3 linked regions of the Homo sapiens genome follow. The protein of the gene in region 2 purifies or fractionates together with the protein of the main gene of each other region. This does not show direct contact. Each region holds a gene or a part of one and is shown on either strand. Other genes may lie near its edges.

The links. The genes of interacting proteins can lie anywhere in the genome.
Region 1: the proteins of CDC27 (region 2) and ANAPC2 purify together in Homo sapiens (affinity purification with western blotting; 20 studies listed by BioGRID and IntAct, with this or other methods). This does not show direct contact.
Region 3: the proteins of CDC27 (region 2) and ANAPC13 purify together in Homo sapiens (affinity purification with mass spectrometry; 6 studies listed by BioGRID and IntAct, with this or other methods). This does not show direct contact.

The regions. Positions count from the first base shown.
Region 1 is NC_000009.12:137,178,545-137,185,566, reverse strand, and holds part of ANAPC2 (anaphase-promoting complex subunit 2), read left to right. Parts: intron 1-479; coding exon 480-654; intron 655-1,775; coding exon 1,776-1,895; intron 1,896-2,324; coding exon 2,325-2,442; intron 2,443-3,704; coding exon 3,705-3,886; intron 3,887-4,637; coding exon 4,638-4,779; intron 4,780-5,039; coding exon 5,040-5,115; intron 5,116-5,182; coding exon 5,183-5,386; intron 5,387-7,022. UniProt on the Homo sapiens protein: Together with the RING-H2 protein ANAPC11, constitutes the catalytic component of the anaphase promoting complex/cyclosome (APC/C), a cell cycle-regulated E3 ubiquitin ligase that controls progression through mitosis and the G1 phase of the cell cycle.
Region 2 is NC_000017.11:47,151,287-47,158,308, reverse strand, and holds part of CDC27 (cell division cycle protein 27 homolog), read left to right. Parts: intron 1-5; coding exon 6-103; intron 104-924; coding exon 925-1,079; intron 1,080-1,184; coding exon 1,185-1,396; intron 1,397-3,444; exon of another isoform or gene 3,445-3,522; coding exon 3,523-3,637; intron 3,638-6,372; coding exon of another isoform or gene 6,373-6,390; coding exon 6,391-6,503; intron 6,504-7,022. UniProt on the Homo sapiens protein: Component of the anaphase promoting complex/cyclosome (APC/C), a cell cycle-regulated E3 ubiquitin ligase that controls progression through mitosis and the G1 phase of the cell cycle.
Region 3 is NC_000003.12:134,482,970-134,490,145, reverse strand, and holds the start of ANAPC13 (anaphase-promoting complex subunit 13), read left to right. Parts: upstream 1-4,160; 5' UTR 4,161-4,194; exon of another isoform or gene 4,195-4,826; intron 4,827-7,176. Other genes in the region: CEP63 (centrosomal protein of 63 kDa), read right to left, coding at 3,419-3,426. UniProt on the Homo sapiens protein: Component of the anaphase promoting complex/cyclosome (APC/C), a cell cycle-regulated E3 ubiquitin ligase that controls progression through mitosis and the G1 phase of the cell cycle.

The DNA.
Region 1 (7,022 bases), on a different chromosome or scaffold from region 2:
AGGGTGGAGAGGGTGAACATCCGTGCGGTCTTGCCACTGGGTAGCAGGTCTGTGGGGCATGAGCACGCCTGGGCCCCGCGGCGGAATTGCCACCTAGAGGTTTGTGCTCGCCTGGGCCCCCCGGCTGGTCTCAAGGGCGTGTTTATCCATTTAAGTGGGGGCAAGTGTGCCCACCAGGCACAGCGCACAGGTCGTGTGTGTCTGTCATGTCTCACGCTAGGGTTGCTGCTGCCAGTGATAAGTGTGGGCACTGGCGCGTGTGAGAGGCACGAAGACTGCAGGGGGGCCGGGACGTCGCCTTTTGGGCCATCACCCACCCTGCAGGTTTTGATGTGCTCCAGCCTCCAGACGCAGGTGGCCTTCGGGCTCCCCTCGGTCCCGGCCGACAGGGTGGGTGGCCGTGAGGCTCCTCCCAGCCTCTGAGTCAGCCCGGGGCTCACCATGCCTCCCTGCAGCTCACACTAGCGTTCTCCTGACAGTGGATCGAGCGGGTGGTCGGCTGGCTCGGCAAGGTGTTCCTGCAGGACGGCCCCGCCAGGCCCGCATCTCCCGAGGCCGGCAACACCCTGCGCCGCTGGCGCTGCCACGTGCAAAGGTTCTTCTACCGCATCTACGCCAGCCTGCGCATCGAGGAGCTCTTCAGCATCGTCCGAGGTGGTCCTGCCCCGGCCCTGGGGTCCGCTCTCCCGTCTGGGGAGTCTTCCCAGGGCCTTCCCCGTGTCTCCTCTGTGTCTGCATCTGGGCTCCCTGTGCCTTCACCGTGTCTGCTCTGTGTCTGCGTCTGGGGCTCCCAGGGCCTTTGCCGTGTCTGCTCTGTGTCTGCGTCTGGGCTCCCTGTGTCTGCGTCTTGGGCTCCCTGTGCCTTCGCCGTGTCTGCTCTGTGTCTGCGTCTGGGCTCCCTGTGTCTGCGTCTGGGCTCCCTGTGCCTTCACCGTGTCTGCTCTGTCTGCGTCTGGGGCTCCCAGGGCCTTCGCCGTGTCTGCTCTGTCTGCGTCTGGGCTCCCTGTGTCTGCGTCTGGGGCTCCCAGGGCCTTCGCTGTGTCTGCTCTGTGTCTGCATCTGGGCTCCCTGTGCCTTCGCCGTGTCTGCTCTGTGTCTGCGTCTTGGGCTCCCTGTGCCTTCACCGTGTCTGCTCTGTGTCTGCGTCTGGGCTCCCTGTGTCTGCGTCTGGGCTCCCCGTGCCTTCACCGTGTCTGCTCTTTGTCTGCATCTGGGGCTCCCAGGGCCTTCGTCGTGTCTGCTCTGTGTCTGTGTCTGGGCTCCTTGTGTCTGCGTCTGGGCTCCCTGTGCCTTCGCCGTGTCTGCTCTGTGTCTGCATCTGGGGCTCCCAGGGCCTTCGCCATGTCGGCTCTGTGTCTGCATCTGGGCTCCCTGTGTCCACGTCTGGGGCTCCCTGTGCCTTCGCTGTCGCTCTTGCAGGGGGGTGCACCGGGCAGTGCTGGGACTGTCCCCACTGCGGCGTCCCCCGTGCCTGGATCAGGGCAGGTGTGGCAGATGCTGGACAGTGCTTCTGGGTGTCCACTGCTGTGCTGCCTTGGCCTTGGCTCCTGCTGGGGACTGGCCCCTGGGTGTTGCTCTGTCCACCCTGTGGCATTGTGGTCAAATGCATCAGCACGCCAGAGTGTCGGGGGGATGTCTGGTGCCTAGCAGGTGGTCTCATCATCGTCCTGGGGCTGGCAAGCACGTGTCCTTTCCCACACCGCACACACTCTGCACCAGCCTGCACGTGCGCACGCATCCATGTCTGTCCCTGAGGGATGTTCTTCTTCTTGTAGACTTCCCAGACTCCCGGCCAGCCATCGAGGACCTCAAGTACTGCCTGGAGAGGACGGACCAGAGGCAGCAGCTGCTCGTGTCCCTCAAGGCTGCCCTGGAGACTCGGCTCCTGCATCCAGGTGCTGTGTGCTGCCCGGCCACCCAGCACTCTGGGCTTAGACACTCACCAGGGGACCCATGTCCAGGGAGCCTGGGGCCTAGTCTGCCAGCCCTGGACTTGTAGGTCTAAGGAAGAAATGGGTTGAGAAGCAATTGGTGAGGTCCTTAGGGGATCTGAGGTGCCCGTCAGCTTGCTTGTTTCTTCTTTGGAGGGAGTCAGGACTGACCGGTAGGTCTGAGGTGATGAGACTTAGTTCTCTCAGAACAGACCTCCCTGCAGGGCGGGACCTGTGAACAGGTAGAGGTGGGGATGGGGGGACAAGGGAACGAGGCTGCAGTGGGGACCTGTAGACCACCTACCGGCATGGCCAGCTGTCTACTCGGGTGTTGCCCCTGGGAGGCTGTGGTCCCGGGCACTGCATGACTGCTGGCTTCTGCCCTGGCTGTAGGCGTCAACACGTGTGACATCATCACCCTCTATATCTCTGCCATCAAGGCGCTGCGCGTGCTGGACCCTTCCATGGTCATCCTGGAGGTGGCCTGTGAGCCTATCCGCCGCTACCTGAGGTGAGGGCTGCAGCTGGCCCAGGAGCCACTGGGACCCTGGGCATCCTGCTGAGCTCCTCGTGGTCCTGGGGGGCAGCCGGAGGGTGTGTTCGGCCGTCAGGACACAAGGTCTCCCCCGGCTGGGCTGAGTGCACGGGATCAGGCCCGAGGCTCTTTCCTTTCCTCTTGCCCGTGCCGGGCACCTGTCCTTGTCACACGGTGTCACCGTGCCCTCTGTGTGCAGCTGCCAGAGGCCCACCACAGCCCTTCCTCAGCCTCCCCATCTCCAGCACAGAGAGAAGCTCTTCCACTTGGCCTCGCCTTGGTGCTGACCAGTCCCCAAGGCCGACCAGGCAAGGGGAGTGGGCTCTGCTGTCCTGGCCTTTCCCACGGCAAGGAACAGACACTCCTGGGGCTGTTCGGTGGAGAATGTGTTGGGATGAGGACCTTGACATGGCTGCCTGGGAATTCCTCAGGGGTCGCAGAGGCCCTGGCCCGGGGCTGGCAGGCACAGTGGCCCCCAGGAGCCGAGCAGCAGGAGCCGGTGGAGTCTGGCCCCTACCTGGACTCCTTTGGTGCTTTGTGGCTGTAACTGGCCTGGCTTCTGAGCCAGTTCTTTGTTTTTTCTTTTTTTTTTGAGATGGAGTCTCACTCTTTCGCCCAGGCTGGAGTGCAGTGGCACGATCTCTGCTCACTGCAAGCTCCGCCTCCCGGGTTCACGCCATTCTCCTGCCTCAGCCTCCCGAGTAACTGAGACTACAGGCCGCCACCAAGCCTGGCTAACTTTTTGTATTTTTAATAGAGATGGGGTTTCACCATGTTAGCCAGGATAGTCTTGATCTCCTGACCTCGTGATCCGCCTGCCTCGGCCTCCTGAAGTGCTGGGATTACAGGCGTGAGCCACCGTGCCCGGCCCTTTTTTCTTTTTCTTTTTCTTTTTTTTGAGGCAGGCTCTCGCTCTGTTGGAGTGCAGTGGCAGAATCCTGTCTCCCTGCAGCCTCGGACACCTGGGCTTAGGTCTTCTGGCTTAGTGTCCCTATGTGCTGGGATTGCAGGTGCGCAGGCCGGCCTTGCGCTCGCAGCTCCTGCTGCTCCCAAGTAACGTTGGGTTTATTTGTTTTTAAGGAGTCTGACGGGCCTGTGTTTAGTACATAGCCCATCACCACTGAGTGTAGAGGCAGGGTCGGTGGTGCTGGCCTAGATGGGGCCGGGACTGGAATGAGTGGTGGGAGGTGCGCGCGGGGTGTCCACACTGTGGGCCACAGCAGCACTCACATCGGCAGGACGCGGGAGGACACAGTGCGGCAGATTGTGGCTGGGCTGACGGGGGACTCGGACGGGACAGGGGACCTGGCTGTTGAGCTGTCCAAGACCGACCCGGCGAGCCTGGAGACAGGCCAGGACAGTGAGGATGACTCAGGCGAGCCAGAGGACTGGGTCCCGGACCCTGTGGATGCCGATCCAGGTTAGCTTGCCCCACATGGTCCCTTTCACCAGTGTGGGGGGCGCTTCAGCCAGGCCGTCCGCTCTGGACTCATCCCTTGTCACAGAGCTTGGCTGTGTCAGGTGTCGCTAGTGTCTCAGAGGCTTGAGGGTGTCAAAGGTCAGGGCAGTGCTCCGCCACCTGCCAGCCTGGGCAGGCCGGTGATGGGCTGTTTTCCTCTGTGGCTGGTCACTCTGGCCGTGGGGGATGCCCTGCCTCCCACCGCTTGTGAGCTGTGGGGTGTCCCTGCCCCGCCACTGCACCTGGCAGAGGAGTGAAGATGTGGGTGACCCCTGAGCTCTGTACTGATTTGGGCCTCAAAGTCCCGTTAGGGTGCCAGCTCCTGCTCAGAGCCCATCTGTGCCTGGCCCTCGTCTGCGAGGGCTCTGAGGGCTATGGGGCCCAGGCCTGGCCCCTGCCCTGGCACAGATGGTAAGTCTTCAACACATCTTTAGTCTCTCTCAGAGGAAAACCCCAGGACCTTTGGCTTGTCCCCTAAGCCTGCATGGGAGTCCCGGAAGGTCCCTGTGGGGTGAGAGGGGCTGGGGATTGAAGCTGTTGCTCCAGGACCTGACTCCAGGTCTCCCGGGAGGCTCAGGGCTGCTCCCAGCCTCGAGGGCCTTCAGGAAGAGCCATGCTGGGCTGTGCCGTCTGGCTGGGCGGGATGGGAGGAGGGCGGCCCTGTCCTTGCCCAGGTGCCTGTCAGGTGACACCCCTGCCCCCACCATGCCAGGGAAGTCGAGCTCCAAGCGGCGTTCATCGGACATCATCAGCCTGCTGGTCAGCATCTACGGCAGCAAGGACCTCTTCATCAATGAGTACCGCTCGCTGCTGGCCGACCGCCTGCTGCACCAGTTCAGCTTCAGCCCCGAGCGGTGAGGCCTGTGACGCGCTGGCCATCTCCAGGGGTGCCGGGGCCTTTGCCCAGCCTCTCTCGGGACAGGGCCCTGACGCCGTGCCTGGGGCCTGGTTGGAGCTGTGCTTCCGCCCCCACTCCTGGCTGGGGGTGTGCTAGCCATTGGGGTGCCCACACAGGCTCCCTGCTCTGCCTGGGGGGCACCCCCGTGCCCTGCCACAGGTGCTCCTTGGGGCTGGGGCTCATCACGACCCCCTGCCCAGACACTCGTCTTTCCAGGGAGATCCGCAACGTGGAGCTGCTGAAGCTGCGCTTTGGCGAGGCCCCAATGCACTTCTGTGAAGTCATGCTGAAGGTGGGTCCCAGCCCCGCCCGCTGCCCGGCCGCCCCGCAGGTCCCCCGTGACACCGGCTCCTCCTCAGGACATGGCGGACTCCCGCCGCATCAATGCCAACATCCGGGAGGAGGATGAGAAGCGGCCAGCAGAGGAGCAGCCACCGTTCGGGGTCTACGCTGTCATCCTGTCCAGTGAGTTCTGGCCGCCCTTCAAGGACGAGAAGCTGGAGGTCCCCGAGGATATCAGGGCAGCCCTGGAGGCTTACTGCAAGAAGTATGAGCAGCTCAAGGTACCTCCATGCCAGGCCACCCCATGGGCTCTTGGCACCCCTACCCTGCACTGCGGGGCTCCCAGCAGCCTGGTGCCTGTGGCTGCCCCGTTGTCACCCGAGTGTCTCTGGGTTGGTCCTGTCTCGCAGCCGCCTCTGCAGGAGAGGGAGTGGGCCTGGCCCACGCTCTCTCCGCCTTCCTCCCAGCAACCCCGTGTCCCCTGTGAGCGAGCGTCCGCGCGGCCCACAGGCGCTTGGGTGGGCTGTGCTGGGCCCAGGTCTCCTGAACTGCTTCAGGGGGACCCCTGTGGCCACAGCAGGCCCTGCCCTCTGAGCGTTTCCTCCTCTTTTGCTATCCACCCTCTGCCTCTCAGAACCGGGGCTTGGGGTGCCTTGCGTCACTGCAGGGAGGCAGCTAGGGAGCCAGGGCTGCCCTCTGCCCAGGGCAGCACTCCCAGGCGCACCTGACCCCCAGGACCCCAGCCCTGCCCCCTTCTCCAGGTCTGTTTCCTCGAGAACTGCCTTTGCAGGCTCCAGTGGTACTTGAGGACCGGGGCTATGGGTCTGTGGTGGGAGTAGGAGGGGAGCAGATGTGGGGAGTGGAGGAGTGAGCCCTGGCCTGGAGGTCACTGGCAGATGGGGACAGTGTGCCCAGAGGATGGTATTGGCCACGTTTGGCTCACTTCCCCTGGCAGCACTGCTGAGATCCCAGCAGTCCCAGTACAGGCGTCCAGAGCCTGAGGGATGGAACTAGGCTTGGCGGTTCTTTCCCTGAGCTCATAGTCAGGTGGGAGGTGTCAGCTCGGGGAGGAAGGGTTAGGATGGTCGTCACAGGTGGGAGGTGTCGGCTCGGGGAGGAAGGGGTCGGGATGGTCGTCACAGGCGGGTTCCAGGGCTTTCTGTCTGATGTGTGGGGCCTGTGAGGCCTCCAGTGTGCCCAGCGAGTGCTCAGGACTGGGGGGAGGCGGGCACCCCAGCGGGGGACATGTGAGGAGAGGGTTCTGGGGCACAGCCAGCATCCAGTCTGCAGACCCCAACCCCAGGTACCCCAGGAAGGGGATGGTCCAGCCTCGGCCCAGGCAGGAGGAGCAGCCTCAGGACAGAGCCGCCAGGAGGCCGGCGGGCGGGCGGGGCTGAGTTCAAGGGAGGGTCCACAGCTTCTCCAGGTCTGCTGTGAAGGAGGCTGGACCTAGATGTGTTTTCCTTTTTCTTTTGCAAGTAAGAGGGCCTTGCTGTGTTGACAAACCAAGGGAACTTACTCCTAGGGGAGGGCAGGGCGATGTGTCCACTTTAGAAACCAAGGGGGAAGCTTCCTTCCGGAGACAGACAAGGGGAGGGCCAGGCGGAGGCCCCCAGGGCAGGAGGCCAAGGGGCTGTGGTAGGGCCGGGCTGCTGACCATGGTGGCGAATGCCTGCTGCCTCCCTCCAGGCCTCAGCTTGGCTCTGGAAGAGTCCAGGTGTCCCTTGCAGCTTGTGGAGGGTCTGTGTGGCTTGCACCTGCTCTCGGTGGAAAGGAGCACCCTGGCCATCCCCACACCTCGAGCTCTGGCCTGTGATACAGCCTGGTGTCTCTGGAGCCTGCGGGCACCGTGCCCCGCTGTGTTCTGGTACAAATCATCCGTGTGGCCCGGCTCCGTGCTCGGTCCCTTTCCCCCTG
Region 2 (7,022 bases):
CACAGCAAGACAGATCGGCTTGCCAAAGGATCAGAATGTTACCAAAAGAGCCTTAGTTTAAATCCTTTCCTCTGGTCTCCCTTTGAATCATTATGTGAAATAGGTAGGTGGGTGGGGTTGAGAGGTGGGTGGGTTCCCATCTCCTCTTCTTTTTTTCCTGCTACTTAATTTTTGGAGAGCAATACAGATCATCTACCCCCAAGAAAAATATTTTTCAAAGTTAAAATTGAGAATAAAAAATAAGTTAGAATCTTCGGTATGTTTCAAGAATCATATAACTGAAAATTACACAAAGATTAAATCCAGTAGATTCTTCTGTTGAACCAATCTATTTTCAAGTATCTGGTGTCCTCTAGAATGGGTTATATTGTGTGTTTAACACTAGCAAAATTGCTTTCTGAATAAGAAAATTAATAAAATTTCTAATGCAATTAATAAATGCCTGAAACTTACAAGACCTGAACAGTACAGGGAGAGAATTTCTCAGTATATTTGGCCTAGGATACATAAAGGACCATTTTTCAGCATTGTTGCATCTATGTATATATAGAAGGGCTTCAACCTTTACTGTAAAATATGATGGGTTTTAACTCTTCAACCTCATCTCCTACTTTGAGAAAAATGAGATCTAGTTATTTTCAGCTTTAAAACAAACACAGAAATCTGCATTTTTCTGCGATTTGTTATGTTTAAAATTAGTGTTCTTGTAGTTTATTTTCATTTACAGCTTTATCTTACTGGTAAACTTTTATGATATATTGATAGATGGGTTTTTTGGGGGTAAATTTGATTAGCAGAAGTGGACAGGAGATTTTTAAAGTTTGGATAAGGCCTATTTCCTGTTTCCACTGATTTATGCATACTTGAAAAACATGTATTCCTCACTTCCTCAGAGACAAACTTTTTTTTTTTTTGTCTTCACAGGTGAAAAGCCAGATCCTGACCAAACATTTAAATTCACATCTTTACAGAACTTTAGCAACTGTCTGCCCAACTCTTGCACAACACAAGTACCTAATCATAGTTTATCTCACAGACAGCCTGAGACAGTTCTTACGGAAACACCCCAGGACACAATTGTAAGTGTCTTATATTCTAGTGTTCAAAATATTATGAAAACTACAAAGAATGATCTGAACTAAATAATATATTGTGAATGACTTGGTAGAAATTTTCTGTTTCAGGAATTAAACAGATTGAATTTAGAATCTTCCAATTCAAAGTACTCCTTGAATACAGATTCCTCAGTGTCTTATATTGATTCAGCTGTAATTTCACCTGATACTGTCCCACTGGGAACAGGAACTTCCATATTATCTAAACAGGTTCAAAATAAACCAAAAACTGGTCGAAGTTTATTAGGAGGACCAGCAGCTCTTAGTCCATTAACCCCAAGGTAAGTCAAACAAGATACTTTCAAATGTGCTATAATACCAAATGATCTTATGATAACTCATATTGTTAGTAATGCAGATTATTACAACAGCAACTTCTAAATCACTGTGGAAACAGGGGCATTCTGTTTTCAGAAAATGAAGTAAAAACTGGCAAATAGTGATGTTGCCAGGTGCGGTGGCTCATGCCTGTAATCCCAGCACCTTGGGAGGCCAAGGCAGGCAGATCACCTGAGGTCAGGAGTTCAAGAACAGCCTGGCCAACATGGTGAAACCCTGTCTCTACTAAAAATACAAAAATTAGCTGGGCATGGTGGCGGGCGCCTGTAATCCCAGCTACTCAGGAGGCTGAGACAGGAGAATTGCTTGAACCCGGGAGGCGGAGGTTGTAGTGAGCCGAGATGGAGCCACTACACTCCATCCTGGGCGACAGACCAAGACTCCAACTCAAAAAAAATTGATATTGAATATTGGACTGGCCAGGCGCAGTGGCTCACGCCTGTAATCCCAGCACTTTGGGAGACCAAGGTGGGCAGATCACGAGGTCAGGAGATCGAGACCATCCTGGCCAACATGGCGAAACCCCGTCTCTACTAAAAATACAAAAAACTAGCCGGGTGTGGTGGCACGCGCCTGTAGATCCAGCTACTCGGGAGGCTGAGGCAAGAGAATCACTTGAACCCGGGAGACAGAGGTTGCAGTGAGCCGAGATGGTGTCACTGCACTCCAGCCTGGGAGACAGGGCAAGACTCCATCTCAAAAAAAAAATTGGAGGAAAATTTAAAACTCTGAAATATTCCTTAATTAGGTAGTAAACACATTAAAAAATACTGTCTTTATGGCTGTGCATTAATGGATAGCGGTGAGCCTCATGAAATGTTATAATCAGGGCACCACTGGTTACTGTTAAAGTGCCTTTTTCCAAAACATGGAGGAAATTTGACACCTACCTTTTTTTGTTTGAGACAGGATCTCACTCTGTCACCCAGGTTAGAGTGCAGTGGCACAATCATAGCTCACTGCAGCCTCAAATTCTTGGGCTCAAGCGATCCTCCCACCTCAGACTCCTGAGTAGCTGGGACTGCAGGCACATGCCACCACACCTGGCTAATTTTTTAAGTGTTTTTGTAGAGATGGGGTCTTGCTGTGTTGCCCAAGCTGATCTGGAACTCCTGGCCTCTAGTGATCCTCCTGCTGTGGCCTCCCAAAGTGCTAGGATTACCGTGAGCCACTGAACCTAGCTGTCACACCTATTAATATAAAATATTTTATCAAAATTATTAGAAGTATATGTATGTATAAATACAGGAACTCAGCCCAGAGGATACATATCCAAAAGTATCAAAATGAAAAATTATGTGCTAGAATGGGTTGGGCATGGGGGCTCATGCCTGTAATCCCAGCACTTTGGGAGGCTGAGGTGGGCAGATCACTTGAGACCAGGAGCTCAAGACCAGTCTGGCCAACATGGTGAAACCCTATCTCTACTAAAATTACAAAAATTAGCCCGGCATGGTGACACATACGTGTAATCCCAGGTACTTTGGGGGTTGAGGCACAAGAATCATTTGAACCCAGCAGGTGGAGGTTGCAGTGAGCTGAGATCATGCCACTGCACTCCAGCCTGGGCAACAGAGCGAGACTCTGTCTCAAAAAAATATATACATATATGCTAGAAGAAATTCTATGAATCAGGTCCTGAGGCCGGGGAACTACTAAAATAGCATGACCATGAGATTACAACTCTGGAGAGTTATAGTTATCTAATGGTCTCTAGAGACATTTTCTCTGTAGTTGTGTCTAAATCCCATAAATTCCAAGAATTTGAAGTAATCTCATCATTTGGATCTTAGATTTATAAAGCTACTCTTCTTTATTTCTAATAAATCTCCTGAGATCAGTAATTGTTGCTCAGTTTAGTTCCTTGTTTGATAGCTTTTTAAAATTTTAGTTATGGTGGGTGGAATAGTCTACATTCACAGCTTATTTTTAATCTGCCCCTCAGATCCTCACTGTCCCTAAGACTGATTTGCCATTCTCTTCCTTTTAGACCTTCTAATTTAAGTATACTGCTGCTTTATATATGCCTTGATGACTTTTTGACACCTTGATTTCAACCTCTTCTCAGTTTTGGGATTTTGCCATTAGAAACCCCAAGTCCTGGAGATGGATCCTATTTACAAAACTACACTAATACACCTCCTGTAATTGATGTGCCATCCACCGGAGCCCCTTCAAAAAAGGTATTTTCCATGTAAAATGCAGTTTGGGAATTGATTAAAGCAACTTGTTTATTTCAATCTTTTAAAGGTAATCTCAGGGAAAATCTTACTTTATGTAATTGCTTTTGCCTTATATTTGAACCCAGCAGGTAGAGGGTGATCTAAATATAAAAGAATGTCATTATTGTTGTAGCCTCTTGGTTACAGTAGGAGACAGACTTCTTACTCTTTTGGCCAAGTAAGATTGTATCTCACAAATTTAGTTTATTTCAGCATATAGTTAAATAAACATAATCATATTTTTACTTTTTAATTTCCTTTTTAAAAAACAAAATTAATATTGTTTATATTACTTGACTATAAATAACAGAAATTATGTCTGCCATAGTTTTTACTTGTCCCTACCACTGTGTATATATGTTTTTTTAATAACACTAATAATTATATGAAAAAAAATTTGCTCAGGTAAAGCCAGATATTTCTGATAATAAGATTTTTGGTAGATCATGGATGTATAGTTTTAACATGAAAATGAAAAATATTTGGTAGTATACTTATAGTAAATATTGCGGCAAGTTTCATGAGGCTTTTTTTTTTTTTTTTTGAGACAGGGTCTCGCTCTCCTGCCCAGGCTGGAGTGCAGTGGTGTGACCATGACTCACTGTAGCCTCTACCTCCCAGGCTCAAGTGATCCTTCCACCTTAGCCTCCCAAGTACCTAGGACTATAGGTGTACACCACCACACCCAGCTAATTTTTTTAACTTTTATTTTTGTAGAGACAGGATCTCACTGTGTTGCCAGGGATGGTCTCAAACTCCTGGGCTCAAGCAATCCTCCTGCCTTGGCCTCTCAAAGTGCTAGGATTATAAACATGAGTCACTGCCCTGCTGAGGCTCTTGTTTTATAATGTTCCCTTTTATAGGTATATGGAAATAGAGGCCAAAATACCATTTTTAAAAAGCATATCTGTGGCACAAGGTAACTTCTGTGAGAATTAAATTAGGTTCTATATATAAAATACCTATTGCCATGCTTCATAAATATTCAAGAAATGGAAGCTAAACAAGTCATACTAATATGTGAATAACAGTTATACTCTCTTTACCTTAATAGAAACATGTTTCTTCTTATAGTTGTTTTTTTACTATTTTACTCCTGAACATCCTTAGAATCTGCAAAAGATTTTTCTATAATAACTCCTTAGTGAGTGATAATAGGAACTCCAAGAATACTTAAAAGGGACTGCAAAATAGTTTGTGTATGGATTGTTTTAAACATTACAGTTATGAAGAAGGCAAAACAAAATGGTAGTTAGCATGCCAGGTGAAGTAGGCCAAAACTAGAAGAGCCATAATAACCATAATAACCAGAGCAAGTTAAGACAGTGGGCAGGCACATGATTTTAGTGCCCAGATAAGATTGCTCTCTCATCCTCTTCTGCCTCTGTTCTCCTCTTACCTTATTACAAGACATTCCCAGAAAAGTCACGCATGTAGGTCTGCATGCAGTGTCAACTGAAAATATCAAACCAGGTATTGAGTGCAGTGTACATAGTTCTTTGATAAATAAGGAAAAGCCAGAGTTGACTTTTGTCCCTTGGATGAATGTAGTGATCCCAATTTGGAAAAGGCGGAGGAAGGCTTATGAAGTTTTATTTTGAAGTGGTGGTACATTAGATGAAAATATTCAGTAGAAAGTTAGTCATAGAGGAAAAAATGTGACCTGCTGATAGAAATAATAATTGAAACTATTAAAATGACCAGGCTCTCCTAGGGAAAGAAAGAGTAGCTAAGGAGAACAGAGTAAACCTAATTTAAAAATAGTAGAAGGATAAAGGGCCAGCAAATGAAGTGGCAGGACAAATAATGTAATGTTTTGGAAGTAACACAAAGTTTCAAAAAGTAGGGCATGATCAGTGATGTTGAATGCAGGAAAGGCTAAAATAAGGTTTTAATATCTGATGAGACAGTGATTATTAGTGATTATTTATAATATGCAGTTTGAGGATTGTGTACAGGACATCAGGGTAACAGTAAGTTTTGAAGAAAATTCTCTGGTAGCCAAAGGGGAAAAACAGTGCACTGATACAATAGTCATAGATCATTTAAAGAAGCTAGATGGTGGAAATGAATAGAAATAAGGGAATAAATTAGAGAAGACTGAAGAGCCAAGCAAAGATTTTTTTTTCTCCAAGGGAACAGAAACCAATTAATGAAGATTAGAAAAACTAAGCAATATTAACTCTAAAGAACAATATCCTTAGGTTTTGGAAAGTAATCAGATGGTTGTTTTTTTAAAATCTACTCCTCTGAACTCCTTTAGAACTGTTACCAAGTGCCAAAGGAGTATAAAATCTTATCGTATTATTATTTTTTTCTGTGTATAATGAGATAAATCATAAATCTTGAGAATTTAGCTGTCTTAAAATTTTTTAGTACTTAACCCCAAATAGAGAAGGTATGTAATAAATGGAGGATGGTCACAATGAGATGAAAAGAATAGCTTCTGGGGATTTTTAGTCTTTGAAACAAAAAGCGAAAGATGAAAAGACATTATAGAGGTAAAAATACTGTGAGATTAAAACAGGGAAATAGACTGATGTTCATACTAATACAACAATAATTAACAATATGATATAAATAGTTTATCTTTAAGGTGACAGTATATTATGGCTGCTTGTATTGAGAAAATGTAGATGGGAGCGTTGTGTTGTCTTTTATCATTTACAGTGCAGCCCATAATTCACAAACCTTAGACTTTTCGTGTTTTACAGTCTGTTGCCAGAATCGGCCAAACTGGAACAAAGTCTGTCTTCTCACAGAGTGGAAATAGCCGAGAGGTAACTCCAATTCTTGCACAAACACAAAGTTCTGGTCCACAAACAAGGTATTTATCATTGTAATTATTCAACTTTTCTTGGCATAAAACTTGATTCTTTACATTTCTTTAATTTAGGCAGATAGTGACTCTCGTGGATTCTAGAATAACTACTGTAAATTTTGAAGATGTAAAATTTGAAACCTCTAACTTACAACACTAATGTAATTTTGAGTTGAGTTTTGTAATGCACAGAAGACAATAGTTAACTAAAGCAGCATTTTAGTTTACTCTGATTGCCTCATGGATTTGTAATTTTCTTCTTATGCACATGACCCTTTCTATAGTTTAGGTACAGATAGGTTTCATACTCCCCTTCCCCACATTATGCATGTCTATAAACAGATTATAAAAATAACAGACAAATAAACTTCAAATAATGAATCTATTTCCACACAGAAATGGTGTTAGATAGGATTTTCTTTTCCTCTTCAAGGACTCAATAGATTATAGCTAACATTTTAAAAGGAAGATACAATTTTCTTTCTCCTTTCTAAAACTGTGAACATGTACCTAAATTTTAAAACA
Region 3 (7,176 bases), on a different chromosome or scaffold from region 2:
CTAGAACTAACGACTAACCTAGTAGCAAGAACACCTCTCCCACCTAGGTAAGACTGTGGTCTCCAAATACTATCTCAGACTCAAAAGAACCACGGCTCCTTGAAGACCAGAAATCTATAAATGAGCCAGGAAAATTATTTACCAGAAAGCAAGGAAATTACCAAAGCTATTGGTCATATCAAATGGAATAGGAGCCAACTTTAAGGAGCTCCCACTGGCCAAAGATGAAACAATTTGAGTATTAAAAACACAACTGCCATATGTTGAAACAGTTTAAATATAAAGTCTATAAGTTCATGATTATAGGTTTACAAAAAGGCAAAAACCCTCATGGTTACCTTTGGAGGCTGCTAGGCCACCAACTCATTACTGTGGTCTGAAAATAGAGGCAAAGAATTAAGCATTTTTCTTGCCTTTCCTGTACAAATTGTATTTCAGGGTAGTCAAACAGCTGGAAAGGGAAAGTTCTTCATAAAAGACTCTCAGTTGATAAATATTGAAGAAATAATAGAATTAGATAATCACCACGTTGCAACCTCTAATGCAATAACGGATACAGGCAATATAACCCCACAAAAGGACTTCACCACTAAGTGAAAGAGTCTTGGGGAATTTCACTATGGGTGGATGGAGCTAACTACACCTAAACCCAATATAATGTTTAATGTTAACATCATAAAAAAAGAAAACAACTCAGACACTGCTTCCCTGATAATTAATGAAATAGGAAGTATACTGCATTACCTATGAAATTATCTGTCCAACCCCCCCAACTATCCCACCAAAAAACAAAACAAAAACAAATATAAGGGTGAAATCTCATCAGGCTTCTAGAGCAGTGCTGTTCAATACAACTTTCTGCAATTATGAAAATATTTTATAACTGCACTGTTCAAAAAGCAGCCACCAGGCAATCTGTAGCTACCGAGCACTTGAAATGTGGCTAATGCAAGTTAGGAACTGAATTTTTTTTTTTTTTTTTTTTTTGAGACAGTCTCGCTCCGTCACCCAGGCTGGAGTGCAGTGGCGTGATCTCGGCTCACTGCAACCTCCACCTCCCGGGTTCAAGCGATTCTCCTTCTCCTGCCTCAGCTTCCTTAGTAGCTGAGATTACAGGCGCATGCCACCACGCCCGGCTAATTTTTCATTTTTAGTAGAGACGGGGTTTCACCATGTTGGTCAGGCTGGTCTCGAACTCCTGACCTCGTGATCCACCCACCTCAGCCTCCCAAAGTGCTGGGATTACAGGCGTGAGCCACCGCGCCCAGCCTAGGAACTGAATTTTTAATTTTATTTCACTTTAATTAACTAGCCACTGCTGGCTGGTGGCTACAATACCGGACAGTGCAATTCTACATCTAACTACTGGTTTAGAGCAGTGGTCCCCAACCTTTTTGGCACCAGGGACCTGTTTCATGGAAGACAATTTCTCAACACCGACAGGGCGGAAATAACACATTTTGTAAATATCTTTTTGTTAAAATTCATATGAAATGTTTTGGGGGAGGAATGGCCAAACCACTTTTTTTTGTTTTTTGAGACCGAGTCTTGCACTCTTGCCTGGTCTGGAGAGCAATGGTGTGATCTCGGCTCACTGCAACCTCCGCCTCCCGGATTCACGTGATTCTCCTGCCTCAGCCTCCCGAGTAGCTGGGATTACAGGCGCACACCACCACACTCGGCTAATTTTATTGCATTTTCAGTAGAGACGGGGTTTCACTATGTTGGCCACACTGGTCTCAAACTCCTGACCTCATGCCCACCTCGGCCTCCCAAAGTGCTGGGATTACAGGCGTGAGTCACCGCGCCCGGCCAACCACTTCTTCAGTAATATGAATAATACACATGGACAGGGTTAGGGGCATGGTTTCAGGATGAAACTATTCCACCTCAGATCATCAGGCATTAGTCAGATTCTTATAAGTGTGCAACCTAGATTCCTTGCATGCGCAGTTTACAATAGGGTTCGTGCCCCTAGGAGAATCTAACCTCACGGCTGATCTGACAGGAGGCAGAGCTCAGGTGGTAGGTAATGCTCACTAGCCTGTCACTCACCTCCTGCTCTGTAGCCTGGTTCCTAACAGGCCACGGACTGGTACTGCTCTGCGGCCCCGGGTTTGGGGGCCCCTGGTTTAGAGGACACAAAGGCAACAGAGATACATGTTAAAGGATACTGTGCGATGCAATCTGCTAAATTTAGAACTGTAAGGAAAAATAGGGGCTAATCCCATAGCTATAACTATGAGGGAACAAATATAGATTAAAAGATGTCAAATGTGCATCACCCAAACACAATAGGCAGATCCCTGTGGGATTTTGGTTCAAACAAGCTAATTGTAAAAAGACATTTAAGAGACAGTTGAAGAAATCGTTATCTGACTGGATATTGACATTAGAGAATTTTTATTAATTTGTGTATGTGTAATGACAGTACTGTGGCTCTGTAAAACTGAAAAACCTAGCTCCTGATGGGGGCGGGGAGGCGGACTAAAATAACATAAAGATCGGAGATTCAGTTCCTGAAACCTTCTGTCAATGTTGGCTTTAGCTGAATTTCAAGTCAAGTTGACATTTTTTGAAAGCAGGAAGCAATGACAGAGTGGACTACTGATGCTGTCACCATCTGCCAGCACAACATAAATTAGAACAGAAAGGACTAAGCAAAGGTCTTCCACCATTTTAACGAGAGGAAATGGCATCAGTACAATCAACATACACAATTTTTACAAACAACTTTTAGATTTGCATCTACATACATTTTAAAAGGCAGTGTGCCTGTTTATAAATCTCTACTCTAATTTAGTTTCAGAGCTTTTTACTACCCTGATCACTGATAATGCCACAGTCAAAAAGCAAACTCAAAATAAAAATCAATCTAAAAATGGTACTGCATGCCAAATAAGAAAATATATACACTTTATCATTAAGCTACAGCTAACAGAAATCTAATCAACGATCCTTATGATTTCCTCGTATCTAAAAAATAAATGCAAGCACTTGAGGAACTGTATAAATACAGGGCATCTACCCTACAATACTGCTTTATTAAAATAATAAATTCTTTTAATAAGTTTAACCAGACATAAGGCTCAGGGAAAACTACTCTGTGCATATCAGCGTACGGTGCTGAAACTGTAAAAGACGACCTGTCTCTGACATCATACTCATCTTTACTCTCCTGATGTCGTAAGGGACGTAAGAAAAACCACATTATAAGCCTAAATGTACTGTCTTCAAGTATCTCCATGATTAAAGTGTTCCTAAGAAACCGTCCTTATTTCTTTCTATCCCTCATTTGTGTGCATGGAGCCGTTAGTTCAGGGTTCTCCAATTTCAGTCCACGATTTATGCCACATTTCCGTACCTCTTGTACTAACATAACCGTTTAAACCAACTCACTATTTTAAAAGCTGCCAACCTTAACATGCCACACTAAATGAGCGGGTCCCCTTGTGCCGTGAATGAAGTAGTCCCAACAGCGCTAGCTAGACAGCAGCCCTGGCAGGGAGGCCGCACTGGGGTCTCTCCGCTGAAAAGGAAGGTGGGTCCGCCGGGGAAGGTGAGTACTGGGCGCAGCTCGCTCGCCCACCTGGCCACTCTCCGAAGCGCCCCCAGCCACCTGGACTCCGAGGAAGGGCTGACCACCTGGCGGGGCCGAACCCCACGCCGGGCTGCGCCACGCCAGACTCCGCCAGTGTGCAGGGCATAGCGGGCCAGGCCGAGGGACTGGGCTTCGGGGCGGACCCAAGCCGGCGGGGACGCGCCTGGTGGTTCGCAGGCCGTTGCGCAAACCGGCCGCAAGCCATGAGGCCGCGAAGCCAGAATCACCAAGGCAGCCTGGGCCGCCTCCAGACCAGGACACGGCAGCCCCTTGCCCCTCCAACTTGCGCACCGGCGGTTACAGGGTTGCCGCAAGCACGCCCCTGAGCCTTCCCGCCGTTACCTCGGGCCGGCGCTGCGCACGCGCGCCACCGCTAAGCTTACGTCCAGCCTCTGTAGTCGGCGCGTTTGTTCCGCCCACTGCCCCCACACTTTTAATAATTGAAACAATGCCTTCTCCAGACTTCCCCTGCACGCGAGCAAATGAACTCACCCACATCCGGGAATCCGAGGAAAGCGAGTGCAGACACGTGATGCGGGGGAGGGGGGGGGGGCGTGGCAGGAGCAAGCGTCTGCCGCGGTGGCCGGGTGCCGGTAAGGGTTTCCAGCGCCCCCGGCCTAGGTTTTGGAGGCGCGGGAATGCGTTCGTTGCTCAGTGTCGGACTTCCCCCTATTCCCATCGGCCGAGGCTGTCACTTTACGCTCATAACCGTTTTTCTTTACTGCACTCGTGTCGGGAGGAAAGGGACTTGCGTGGCACCCCCAGACCTCCCCGTCTCCGCTTCCACGTTTGGTACATCCTGCCTGAGGCAGGAAGCCGCAGCTGAGGGACGGCCTGTCGTACGGTGCGGATGGTGGTGGCCTGCGAGGCTCATTTCTAGCAAGGAACAAGGCTTTCCCGCTTTGATTTTATAAATATTATGTTTACAAAGCTGTAATATATAGAAATTGATAAGACGTGTCCCTGTCCCTGGAAACGCAGGCACCGCGTGTTTGGAAAGACATTCATCTGGGCTGTTTGACAGACTCCCCAGTTGGTGCCATGCTCTGTGCTTAGGGAACTGTGAGACCCCTGGAGGGGTGGGTACCGGGACCGCACTCAGCCTGGGGTTTGGAGGCGGCCTCCTATAGGAAGCGACCTGGGACCTAAGATTTTTAGACTGACTGTGGGTTCACTGGAATAAAAAGGAAGAAACAAAGAGCATTGCAGGCATCGGGACTGTCACGTGAGTAAGAAAAGTTTGTTCAGGAAACAGTGGTCGTACTGGGTGACGAGTACTTGGGACGGTGGCTTTAATACACAAGATAATCAGTGTGCCCTGGGCATTGATTATCTTGATGCTTCCCATCCTTCCAGCCCCTTATGAGGGAAGGCACCTTCGCGCCTAATCCCGGAAATGGGATGTTGACCTTCAAGAGCTGACGCCTGCGTTTATCTTGAAAGGAAGAGTGGCATTAGTGATGTGGAAAAGGGGGTTTTAACTGTCAAGGCTGGAAAATGTGACAGGGTTGGAGGTGTTTGGAGAAGGGACAGGTGAAAAAGATTGAGACCAAATGTGGAAAGATCTACTAAGGAATCATGGGTACAAAATGTACACGTAACAGTTGGAGGCAATAATACCTGAGCAATTGACCACAAAGCTGACCTAGCTTGTTTAGTAGATTAAGTTAGGACAAGAAGCAAGAGTTCAAGGATAGAAGGCCTACTGAAGCTCGAGTGATTTGAGAAAACTTTACAAAGGTGGAAAATCTACGTGGGCCTCCGAAAGTCAGGTTTGGATCAGCTGAGGAAAGTGAGAAGGGTATCCCAGGAGACAGAGCAGCAAGGACAAAGGAGTAGCAGCAGGAAAGTGGGGAGCACTTGTAAGACAGGGACTTCAAAAGTATAACCAAAACTTCGTCTTGCTTTGAGTTATCCACTGGGTAGTACTCGGTTAATTATTGAGTACTGGATTAATTAAGCCCTCACCTGGCTCACCGGTGACAGAAGTAGCAGGGCGCATTTTGCTTAACTTTTGCCGAGATCCTTGTCATGGGGGTGTAAACCCTTTCCCACACCAATCTGTGTATAATTTTTGCCAAGGTGTTAGGGATATCTTGCAGTTATCCTATGGGGGACAGCTGTGAGCCTTTTTGGTTTTTTTTGTTTTTTTTTTTCCGAGACGGAATCTTGCTCTGTCGCCCAGGCTGGAGTGCAGTGGCGCGTGGCGCTATCTCGGCTCACTGCAAGCTCCGCCTCCCAGGTTCACGCCATTCTCCTGCCTCAGCCTCCCGAGTAGCTGGGACTACAGGCGCCTGCCACCATGCTCGGCTAATTTTTTGTATTTTTAGTAGAGACGAGGTTTCACCCTGTTAGCCAGGATGGTGTTGATCTCCTGACCTCGTGATCCGCCCACCTCGGTCTCCCAAAGTGCTGGATTACAGGCGCGAGCCACCGCGCCCGGCCCTGTGAGCCATTTTTACAAAAACTTCCACCTGCCTTGGCCCAAACCTCAGCGTTCTTAGGCACAGGAGCTCATGAACATACTGAGATAACACTAAACTGGACTATGCGAAGGGACCAACTACAGACCTGACACAAATCCTCAAGGCAAGACGATGTCTGAAGTTGAGCTTGTAAAGGAAATGGCTTCCTTCCTTAAAATATCACCCAGGCTGAGCTCTGAAAAAAGCACCTCCAGATGGTGGGTTCCACCCCGCTCCACCACCCCAAAATTGCTTATTGTGTGAGTCTCCATAGTCTCAGAAACTGAGAGTACCTTTGATGCCAGTGGCTTCCGGGCTTTTTGGATTGTCACTTGGTAGCAGGGAGCACCCATAGGATGATGCCTATGATGAGTCAGGGCCCAACCTTGGAAACAGGGAAATCCAGAAGTATCCTACAAGCTAGCCAGCCTTTTGGATTAGATTATAGCAGTTTCAGAGAAAAATGGGGAATCAGCCATGGTCAAGGAGCTAAATAAGCATCGTGACCATTTGGGCCAGAAATTGAAGGGAGTGTAGCGTTAAGAATTAGAGGAAGGAACCTCCGAGGAAGGAGCTACCCCAAAGGGAAGCAGAAACTGGAGAAACTTTAGCAGTATGAGGTTCTACCACTGGTGTTCACCTAGAAGTGCTTTATTCAGATCTCAGCCTGGGTACTATTTTAGGGAAGGAAGCCGTTTCCTTTACAGTATGTTCGTGTGACTCCTGTGCCTAAGAATGCTGAGGTTTGAGCCAGGGGCTAGAAAGGAAACTTAGCTGGCCATTATGAATCAGGGACTCATCAAAGGCATCACAAACAGGAAAAGGTGAATGTTCAAGTTAGAAGAGAAGAGCTACATTGAGATGCAACATATTAATATTTGAGGGCCTCGTTTAACGTGTTGCTCTCCTGTCACACTCTATGACACTGGTCTGTCAGCTGGGCTATGCCTGTCCAGTATACACTATAAAATATGTATCAGTTGGGGTTGGAGAGAGGAACTGTGATCAAAGTAGTCACCCGGCCCATATGAGAAAATGAACCTTTTCCCAAAAGGTGGCCCCAGACTAAAAAGCCTGGAGAATCCTAATAGTGGATTATACCATCTCTTC